Linked DNA regions of Homo sapiens: region 1 is linked to region 2. The links come from fine-mapping of genetic effects on gene expression. A gene starts in region 2. The other region holds a variant in brackets. All regions are shown on one strand. Distances are from middle to middle.

Region 1 (5,518 bases), 21 kb before region 2:
AGCTGAGCCAAGCCAAAGAGGCGTGCTTATTAACTCCTGCAGCTGAACAGTTCATGGGTGGATCCAGCTTCAGGAACAAGTGGATCCAGGACCTCTGTATTAGCGTTCACTAGTGAGACAGGACTAATAGGATAGATAAATATTTGAAGGGGAATTTATTAGGAGAATTGACTCACACGATAACAAGTGAAGTCCCACAATAGGCCATCTGCAAGCTGAGGAGCTGGGAAGCCAGTCCAAGCCCCAAAACCTCAAAATTAGGGAAGCTGACAGTGCAGCCTTCAGTCTGTGGCTGAAGGCCCAAGAACCCCTGGCAAACTACTGGTGTAAGTCCAAGAGTCCAAAAGCTGAAGAACTTGGAGTTCAATATTTGGGGGCAGGAAGCACAGGGGAAAGATGAAGGCCAAAAGACTCAGCAAGTCTGCTCTTTCCAACTTCTTCTGCCTGCTTTTATTTATTTATTTATTTTGAGACAGAGTCTCGCTCTGTCACCCAGGCTGGAGTGCAATGATGCCATCTAGGCTCCGCCTCCCAGGTTCAAGCGATTATCCTGCCTCAGCCTCCCGAGTAGCTGGGATTGCAGGCACCCACCACCACACCTGGCTGATTTTTGTATTTTTAGTAGAGACCAGGTTTCACCATGTTGGCCAGACTGGTCTCGAACTCCTGACCTCAGGTGATCCCACCCGCCTCGGCCTCCCAAAGTGCTGGGATTGCAGGCATGCACCCAGCCCTGCCTACTTTATCCTAGCCACACTGGCAGCTAATTAGATGGTGCCTACCCAGATTGAGGGTGGGTCTGTCTCTCTCAGTCCACTGACTCAAATATTAATCTCCTTTGGCAACACCTTCACAGACACACCCAGGATCAATACTTTGCATCCTTCGATCCAATCAAGGTGACACTCAATATTAACTATCACAAGTCCACCCCTTGTCAATTTGAACCCATATACATCTCCTGAAATCATACATAATTTTCAAATAAAGACAATAATAGGCTGGGCGCAGTGGCTCAGGCCTGTAATCCCAGCACTTTGGGAGGTTGAGGCGGGCAGATCACCTGAGGTCAGGAGTTCTAGACCAGCCTGGCCAACATGGCAAAATCCCGTCTCTACTAAAAATACAAAAATTTCCTGGGCATGGTGGTGTGTGCCTGTAATCCCAGCCACTCGGGAGGCTGAGGCAGGAGAATGGCTTGAACCCAGAAGGCAGAGGTTGCAGTGAGCCGAGATCACACCACTGCACTCCAGCCTGGGGGATAGAACGAGGCTCTGTCTCCAAAAAAACAAAGTTTATAATTACACCTAACATAATACAGCTATCCTTCATACAACCGGAAGCACACCAATCCTTAACCTAAATGCTATTACGTAAAGTTAACAGCACATAAATGCTGATATGAGGTCAATAAATCTTATGTCACATGATAAAGGAAATAAAATGAAGATATTTTCTTAGTGTGTACATGCACAAACATATTCTCAACAAAATAACGAGGAAATACTCATGACAGTTACAGTCCTCGTTTCTGCAACTGGTCATGTGGTCATAGCTGGTATTGATGACTACCTTCTTCTACTACCCATTCTGTATTCCCTTTGTCTTTCACAAGTACCTCAGCAGGTTGCGGTTTTTTTTACCTGGTGGAGTGACCCAAACCTTCATTCCTGAAGGGTCTGGACTATTTGTAGTCCTGCCTGAATTGGGCTATTGTAGTTTCCCACTGAATTTAATCACAGATCATGGTACTATTAAGAGACGCCCTACGGGATCTCCTGTATTCCATGCATACTCTTCCTTACCTCTATTGTGGAGTAGTAGACTGATTTCATCTTGATAGTCCAGTCAATCACCCCAGCCAACATTGTAACTCCCTTCTTCTTAGCATGTTAACTCAAAGGTAGGAGAAGCCTGAAGTGTCCGGGTGGCAATCTTAACTTTCAGTTTAATGGAATCGTTGTGTCTCCTGGTGGCAGTGTTCCTCCCTCTGGAACTAAGACCTCTAGGCCAGCAGAACATAATGTCGTGGGAACAGGAAGCAAAAATGTTGCTCGTGGATCACTAGGGTTGATGGTGAGTGGTGCCACTTCCACTTCCACCCCTGGATTCCTGGACTGGTGAATCCTGGCGATGGGAGAAAGAGTACCATGTATTGGATGCTGATTCAGAGCATATGTGGCCTTCTGGAGAAATTTGCCCCAGCCCTGCAAAGTATTGTCACTTAGTTGGCATTGTAATTGTGACTTCAAAGGCCATTCCACCGTTCTATCAATCCAGCTACTTCAGGATAATGGGGAACATGGTAAGACCAGTGAATTCCATGAGCAGGAGCTAACCACTGGAATTCTTTAGCCATAAAGTGAGTGCCTTGGTCTGAGGCAATGCTGTGTGGAATACCATGATGGTGGATGAGGCATTCCATGAGTCCACAGATGGTAGTCTTAGCAGAAGCATCACATGCAGGACAGGCAAACCAATATCCAGAGTAAGTGTCTATTCCAGTGAAGACAAACCTCTGCCTTTTCCATGATGGAAGAACCCCAATATAATCAACCTGCCACCAAGTAGCTGACTGGTCACCCCAAGGAATGGTGCCGATCAAGGGCTCAGTGTTGGTCTCTGCTGCTGGCAAATTGGGCACTGGGCAGTGGCCGTAGCCAGGTCAGTCTTGGGGAGTGGAAGTCCATGTTGCTGAGCCCATGCGTAACCTCCATCCCTGCCACCATGGTCATTTTGTTTATGCGCCCGTTGGGAGATGACAGGGGTGGCTTGGGAAAGACGCTGAGTGGTATCCACAGAACAAGTCATCCTATTCACCTGATTATTAAAATCCTCCTCTGCTGAGCAGGAGGGTTACAAATATCTTCACAGTTTTTGACCCCTCAGAGAGGTCTATCCACATACCTCTTCCCCAAATTTCTTTATTACCAACTTTCTAATCATGCTTCTTCCAAGTCCCTGACCATCCAGTCAAACCACTGGCTACAGCCCATGAATCAGTATATAATTACACATCTGGCCATTTCTCCTGCCATGAAAAGTGCACAACCACGTGCACTGCTCAAA[G/A]TTCTGCCCACTGGGAAGATTTCCCTTCACCGCTGTCCTCCAAGGATGTCCTCGAAAGGGGCTAGAGTGTTGCAGCTCTCCACTTTCGAGTGGTGCCTGCATATCATGCAGAACCATCTGTGAACCAGGCCCTAGTCTTCTCTTCCTCTGTCAACTGATCATAGGGAACTCATGAGGCCATCAGTGCAGGCTGGGGAAGGGAAGGCAGGGTGGCAAGAGTGGAGACCATGGGCATTTGAGCCACTTCCCCATGTAACTTACTTGTGCCTTCAGGACCTGCTTGAGCCCGATCACGTAAATCCCACTTCCATTTGATGATACAATGCTGCTGTGCACGACCCATTTTATGGCTAGATGAGTCAGAAAACACCCAGTTCATGACAGGCGGTTCAGGCTGCATAGTGAATTGATGACCCATAGTCAAACATTCAGTTTCCACCAGAGCTCTTTAACAGGCCAAGAGCTGTCTCTCAAAAGGAGAGTAGTTATCTGCAGAAGATGGCGGGGCCTTGCTCCAAAATCCTAGAGGCCTCTGCTGTGATTCACCTATGGGGGTCTGCCAAAGGATCCAAACAGCATCCCTATCTGCCACTGACACCTCAAGCACCATTGGATCTGCTGGGTCATATGGCCCAAGTGGCAGAGCAGCTTGCACAGCAACCTGGACCTGTTGCAGAGCCTTCTCCTGTTCTGGACCTCACTCAAAACTGGCAGCCTTTCAAGTCACTTGATAAATGGGCCAGAGTAACGCACCCAGATGAGGAATGTGTTGCCTCCAAAATCCAAATAGGCCAACTAGGCATTGCGCCTCTTTCTTGATTGTAGGAGGGGCCAAATGCAGCAACTTATCCTTCACCTTAGAAGGAATATCTCGACAGGCCCCACACCACTGAACCCCTAGACATTTTACTGAGGTAGAAGGTCCGTGAATTTTAGTCAGATTTATTTTCCATCCCCTGGCACACAAATTCTCACCAATAAATTCAGTGTGTTTGCTACTTCTTGCTCACTAGATCCAATCAATGTAATGTCATCAATATAATGGAGCAGTGTGATATAATGTGGAAGGGAAAAGCGATCAAGGTCTCTCCAAATAAGACTATGACACAAAGCCAGAGAGTTGATAACCCCTGATGTATGACAGTAAAGGTATATTGCTGGCCTTGCCAGCTGAAGGCAAATTGCTTCTGGTGGGCCTTATGGACAGGAATGGGGAAAAAGGCATTTGCCAAATCAATGGCGGCATACCAGGTACCAGGAGATGTGTTAATTTGCTCAAGCAGTGAAACCACATCTGGTACAGCAGCTGCAACTGGAGTGACCACTTGCTTAAGCTTACGATGATCCACTGTCATTCTCCAAGATCCATCTGTCTTCTGCACAGGCCAAATGGAAGAGTTGAACGGGGATGTGGTGGGAATCACCACCCCTGCATCTTTCAAGTCCTTGATGGTGGCACTAATCTCTGCAGTCCCTCCAGGGATGTGATATTGTTTTTGATTTACAGTTTTTCTAGGTAGAGGCAGCTCTAATGGCTTCCCTTTGGCCTTTCTCACCATAATAGTACTTACCTTACCAGTCAGAGAGCCAGTGTGGTGATTCTGCCAGCTGCTAAGTATGGCAAGTATGCTAAGTATAATGTCTGTGCAAATTATGCATTCTGGCACTGGGAAAATGACCACAGGATGAGTCCAGGGATCCCTGGACCCACTGTATTCAGACCTGAGCTAAAACTCCATTAATTACCTGACCTCCATTAGCCCCTACTTTAACTGCAGGTCCACAGTGATGTTCAGGGACCCCTGGAATCAACATCAGCTCAGAGCCAGTGTCCAGTAGTCCCTGAAAGATCAGTTATCCCGGTAAGAGCTCAGAGGTCTCTCTACGGAAGGGTGGGAGAAAGATAAATGGCATAAATTGTCGGTAGTGTAGTGGGGTCCTTCCTCAAGCGGACACGGCCTCCCCTCATTCAAGGGGTTCTGGGTCTGTAAACTGGCTCAAGTCTGGAAATTGACTGAGGGGCCGTGATTCTCTGTTTTTTTTTTTTTTTTTTTTTTTCTGAGACTGAGTCTCGCTCCATAACCCAGGCTGGAGTGCAGTGGTGCAATCTCGGCTCATTGCAACCTCTGCCTCCCGGGGTCAACTGATTCTCATGCCTCAGCCTCCCAAGTAGATGGGATTACAGGCGCCCACCACCATGCCCAGCTAATTTTTGTATTTTTTTGTATAGATGGGGTCTCACTATGTTACCCAGGCTGGTCTCAAACTCCTGGCCTCAGGCGATCCTCCTGTCTCAGCCTCCCAAAGTGCTGTGATTACAGGCGTGAGCCACAGCGCCCAGCCTGATTCTGTTTTTATAATTCAAATTAGTCTTTTGTCGACTCGATCTGGAAGTTTTCTGCTTATACAAATTAAATAAATCTGCATTCTCAGGACCGTGGCTTTCTTC
Region 2 (5,000 bases):
CCCTAAAAAAATTTAAAAATAAAAACAAATGCCTGACTCACTGGAGAAGGCACTGTCTCGGATGCCAGGGGTGCTGAGTGCAGGAGCTGATGGGGCAGCAGTGCTAGTGGCCGGGGTGCTGTCAGGAAGCACCACCCTGAAAGGAAGTGAAAAGGGCCGGTGAGCAAGGGGGGACGCACAGCCTCAGCCCTCACCTCCCACCTCCCACCTGGCCACTCACAGGTAGCCTGGGTTGTGATAGTCGTCCTCATCCTCATCCGCATCCTCACAGGCTGGTTCTGGGGGTAACGACACAGGGGTCAGCCTAGTCCAGGACGGACCCCAGACTCCCCACCCAGCCTGGGCACCTCGGATCCCAGACGCACCCTCGTTCTCGTAGCTCGCCACACTGTTGGCTTCAAAGAGAGGGTGAGAGGGAGACTAAGTCAGCTCAGGCCAGGCCTATCTTCTTCCCAGCCCCCGCCGCCTGAACCCTTCCCCACACTTACCACCATCAGAATCCCGCCGGGAAGATGGCGTCCGGTGGGAGCCCCCAAGGGGCTGCGGGGATCTTCTGGGAGTCAAAGGTCAGGGGTCATGCCTGAGGTGGGGCTCAGGGGGCAACAGCAGTTGCAAAAGGGAAAGGGGCCCCCAATCCAAAAAAGTGAAGGGGTAGAGAGTGGAGTTTGGAGGGGGAGGGGCTGAGCTTTGGAGGGGCAGGGGCTGAGCAGCTACTCACGGGATGGGGAGCAGGTCTGGCTGGCTCAGGGGTGGGTAGGAGGTGACAGGTGGGTAGGCAGGTGGCCAGGGGGCAACCGTGTCTGAGGACACAGAACCAAGTTGAAAGAAGGACTCCGGACATCGTCAAGGCCTCAAAGAACAGACTAAGCCCCTGAAAGCCCCACACCCTGGACAGGCCTGGGGGAGCCATCTCCCCTCTCCCAGCTCAGGTCAAGGCCATGTGGGCAGCCCCAAGGTGGCAGGGGAAGTCTGAAGGTTCACGCTCACTCCCACACCAGGGGACCCTCTCCCTGGCACCCAAGGTAGGGGACCCTCCTTGTACTCACGAGGCCGTTTGAACTGGATGCCCCTTGGATACAAACTGGTAAAGGAGACACAGCTTGGGGATGGGGCTGGAAGATGGAGGATGGAAGCCCCAGCCCTGCCCCGCCATGGGGTGTGGAGGGAGACCCAGGGCGGCTGGGGCGGACTCACCTATCTGAGGATGTGCTGTCGTAGGAGCCTGGGAAAGAGAGGGCTGGTGAGGCAGGAACAGGGGGTGCTTAGGGCAGAAGGTGCTGGGATCCAGGGACTCTCAGAGGCGCTGGGATCAGGACGGAGGCAGGGACAGAGCCAGGACAGACACAGGGGCTGGGAGTGGATGAGGATCCCGTCGGTGTCCCTGGGCCCTGGGTACCCCCACCAGTTTCCCACTCACCTGGCAGTCTGTGGCAGTGCACACACAGTGCCATCAACATGGCCAGGATGGGCAGCAGCAGGAGCCCCAGCACGCAGGGGACCAGGATGGCCTCCTCCATCTGCAGGGGAGCTCGGAGCAGGCTGGCTGCACCCCTAGGCCCCTCAAGGGCAGAGTCAAGGCCAGATGAAGATGGGGTGAGGACCGGACCCGGCAGGGAGCAGGGGGCAGGTAGGCACCAGGTGGCAGGGGAGCCCGGGAGGAGGCAGCTGTGCCCTCCCCGGGGCTCCCGGGATGGGTCCCCTCTTTTACTGGGCTGAGTGTGCGTCCAGCTGACTGTGGAAAGTCCCTGCTCCCAGGGTGGTCAGACCAGGGCCTGGGCTGAAGTCGGGGGATCCAGTTACCCCTGCGTCCCAGCCCTACCTGCCCCTCCTCGGCGCCCGCCTCTCCGTGCCCGCCCTCCCGCCCGCCTGCGGCAGGAAGCTGTGGTGAGCGCCGGGCGAGGGCAGGAAATCATCAAGCTCTCAGCCGGCTGCACCCGCCCCCTTCCCACCCCACCCGCCAGTGGGGAGGGGGCAGGAGGAGGCCCGGGAGCCACCCCAGGCACTCACCAAGGGTCTGCTGGCCCCCCCCAAGACGGGGACAGCCACCTGCCAGCTGGCAGCCGTGGCCTCCATATCCAGGACCCGGGGAGGCAGCGAGCAGGGAGGCCCTGACAGTGGGAATTCTGGGGTACAAAGGGCAGTGCCCACCCCCACCTCAGCCAGGCCTGTGAGGCAAGGGACAGGCTCCAGGGAAGCAGGGGCGTGACTCACGGTCACACTCAGCCAGCTCACTCGGAGAAGAGCAGTCCCCCATCTCAGTCGCCCAGCCCAGAAGGGCAGAGACTCACCCAGAGCCCTGAGGAATGACCCACAGTCTTCAGGAGCCCTGGGGTGAAGACGGGGTGCAAGATCAGAGGCCACCCAGAGAAAGACGAGAGCAGGCACCTGGGGTCTGGCTACAAATTTTATTCCGTTACAAATAGCACCGAGCCCTTGGGGCTGCCCCTGTGGAGAGGGATCCCCCTCCTGGACCCCCACCTCCTCCCCTGAGCTACCCAGGTAGTGTCTGGGAGCTGGCACACGGCCCAGGGTCCCTCTGGAAGCTGGGCCAGGCCAAGGGGTTAGGCCCAGGCCCTTCGTGGGGTGGGCCCAGGGCCAGCTGTGGCAGATGTGCAGGTAGGTGAGCGGCAGCCTCTCAGATGAGCACACTGGCCACGGGCACGCGGGTGGAGCGGCCCCGCTGGGGCACCACAATCCGGTCGTCTGTGGACCCTGCTTCGTGCAGCAGGCCTGAGGGGGGAGGGTCAGAGCCAGGGTGAGCTGGATGGACAGACAGACAAAGCCAGAGAAGGGCAAACAGGCAGCGGGAAATGGATGGGGCAGCCACAGAGCCACCCCAGGGGTGGATGCAGACAGACTGGAGGCCAAACAAGGGGAGGGCTGTGGACTGAGCTGCCAGGTGCACAGGAGTGGGCAGACAGATGGACAGACAGACAGGCAGATCAAGAAGCTGGGCCGGGCACAGCTCCTAACTGACCCTGCACGTGCAGCTGTGCCCGCCGGCGGTCGGCCTCAATGAAGATGGCGGTGCCCAGGAAGGCTGCGCCGCCCAGTGCCCCAACAAACGCGCAGAGCATGAGCGAGAACTGCAGAGCCCGGAACTCGGACAAGAAGGAGGGGGGCCAGTTCCGGCGCAGGCGGTCAGAGATCTGCAGGGAGAGGAGACAGGAAAGCCAGGGGAGTCAGCCTCATGGATGAACCAGGGAGGGCACGCCCCTGAGCTCCAGGGAGAAAGACAAGTGGAGCCCAGGAAAGGGAAGGAGGTTTGAGCTAGATGCAGTGGCTCATGCCTATCATCCCAGCTACTCAGGAGGCTGAGGTGGGAGGATCGCTTGAGCCCAGGAGGTCGAGGCTGCAGTGAGCCATGATCGTGCCACTACACTGCAGCCTGGGCAACAGAGTGAGGTCTTGTCTCAGGAAGAAAAGAAAAGAGAAAAGAAAGGAGGAGTTTGGACCACCAGGGTGAGGTCCCTGGCCTTACTGGTAGAAATATTCAAAGACAAAATCTTTCTCCTCCAGTTGACAATGGAAGGTGAGAAGTGCCCAGCACGCAGGACACAGACACTTCACTAGGGCCAGGCCTTCTGATCCAGCCCAGGCTCAGGACACCAGCCACCCCATGCCAGCCAAGAAATAATGCTCACCAGGCCAATGAGGTAGGGGCTCCCAGCATCACCCAGCAGGTGGGACAGCACGATCTGGAAGGCCTCGGCGGTGGAGCGTCGGGTAGGGATCACCACGTACTGTGGAGGAGTTGGTGGAGCTCAGTGGATGCTCTGGGCTCCAGGGGGCAGGAGGCAGGGGGCCAGGAGACCACCAAGGATCCGCCTAGGCCGGGGTCAGAGGTGTGCCTGGGGTTGAGGTCGCAGGGCAGGCCGGGGGTCTGCTACAGATGTTATTTATTGCAGAAGGTAGGTTGAGGCTGGGCTTTGAGGGGTAGAGGCAACACTCCTGACCCCAACTCTGCTCTCATCAGCCTCTGCGCTGACCCTGGAGCTGCCCAGCAACTCACCAGCAGAATGTCGGCCACGATGGCCCAGTTCATGGACAGGAGGGTCTCTCCAATGAAGATGAAAATCTGGGGGAAGAGAGGGTCGGGGGTTCATGACAGTAAGGGCTAACACATGGAAAGTTGACCATGTTCCCAGCTCATCTATTAACTAATTTAATCCTCATCACACCCCAGTGAGACAGGTGCTACTAATATCCCCATTTTACACATGATGAAACTGAGCACAGAGAGGTTAAGTCACTTGTCCAATGTCACACAGCTGGGAAGAGCCAGAGCTGTGATTCAAAACCAGGCATTCCACCTCGAGTGGCCATTACGCTGACTGCTCCTCCACCCTGGACCCACGCCATCCCCCTTGACACCTGCTGGCTACTCACATAAGTGGCCACGATGCTACCACGGGCGCAGGCAAGGGACAGGAAGAGGAAGGGTGCAGAGCCCAGGAGGCCAGTGGCACAGACCAGGGGATCAGCCCGGGGGTTGGAGTGGCGGAGCCGGCGGCTGATCTCCACACCCAGGCCCACACCCAGGACTCCGGTCAGGCAGGTGATGAGTCCAAAGATGAGACTAGGGGTGAGGGAAGGGAATGGGGGGTTTGTCCCTGTGCCTGCCAAGGCCCCTACGCTGTCCATCCTAGCCACCCTCACAACCAAGGTCCCTACAGACACAGCACCCCATGGTTGGCACAGCCCTGAGTGGCAGACATCATCCCATCACTTATTTCCCAGACCAGGAAACGGAGATTCCAGGAGAGCAGGCAGCTTGTGAAGTCAGGAGTCAAACTCCCTGCCTGGGTCTGAGCCACAGATGCTCTTCACTCCAGCCCTGCCACCCGCAGGCCCCCCAGCATAGCCCCATCTGGGCACCTGTCAGAGGAAGAGCAGGAGTCTCCGGGAAGGCAGGGTGGGGTCTCCCCAAGGACCACGCGGGAACGCAGCAGGAATGCCGGAGCCCACAGAGCCAGGGAGCCCGTGACAAAGGCCACAGC

Evidence for each region.
Region 1: its variant is fine-mapped to the expression of LAT in whole blood (TOPMed, PIP above 0.99).

What each region holds. Positions count from the first base shown.
Region 1 is chr16:29,002,621-29,008,138 of GRCh38, reverse strand. No RefSeq gene overlaps it. Among named protein-coding and RNA genes, the nearest start is that of LAT, 20 kb to the right of the region's middle. The variant G/A (reference allele first, on the strand shown) is at 3,070.
Region 2 is chr16:28,981,935-28,986,934 of GRCh38, reverse strand. It overlaps LAT (linker for activation of T cells), which reads right to left and starts at 1,883. Exons shown (of 12, transcript NM_001014987.2): 1 at 1,418-1,883; 2 at 1,195-1,222; 3 at 1,047-1,081; 4 at 719-800; 5 at 489-553; 6 at 366-395; 7 at 221-278; 8 at 42-136. The coding sequence starts at 1,517. SPNS1 (SPNS lysolipid transporter 1, lysophospholipid) reads right to left here. Exons shown (of 12, transcript NM_032038.3): 7 at 4,879-5,000; 8 at 4,390-4,579; 9 at 4,013-4,078; 10 at 3,645-3,743; 11 at 2,978-3,149; 12 at 2,392-2,730. The coding sequence ends at 2,636. RefSeq lists silencers at 1,763-1,822, 1,843-2,122.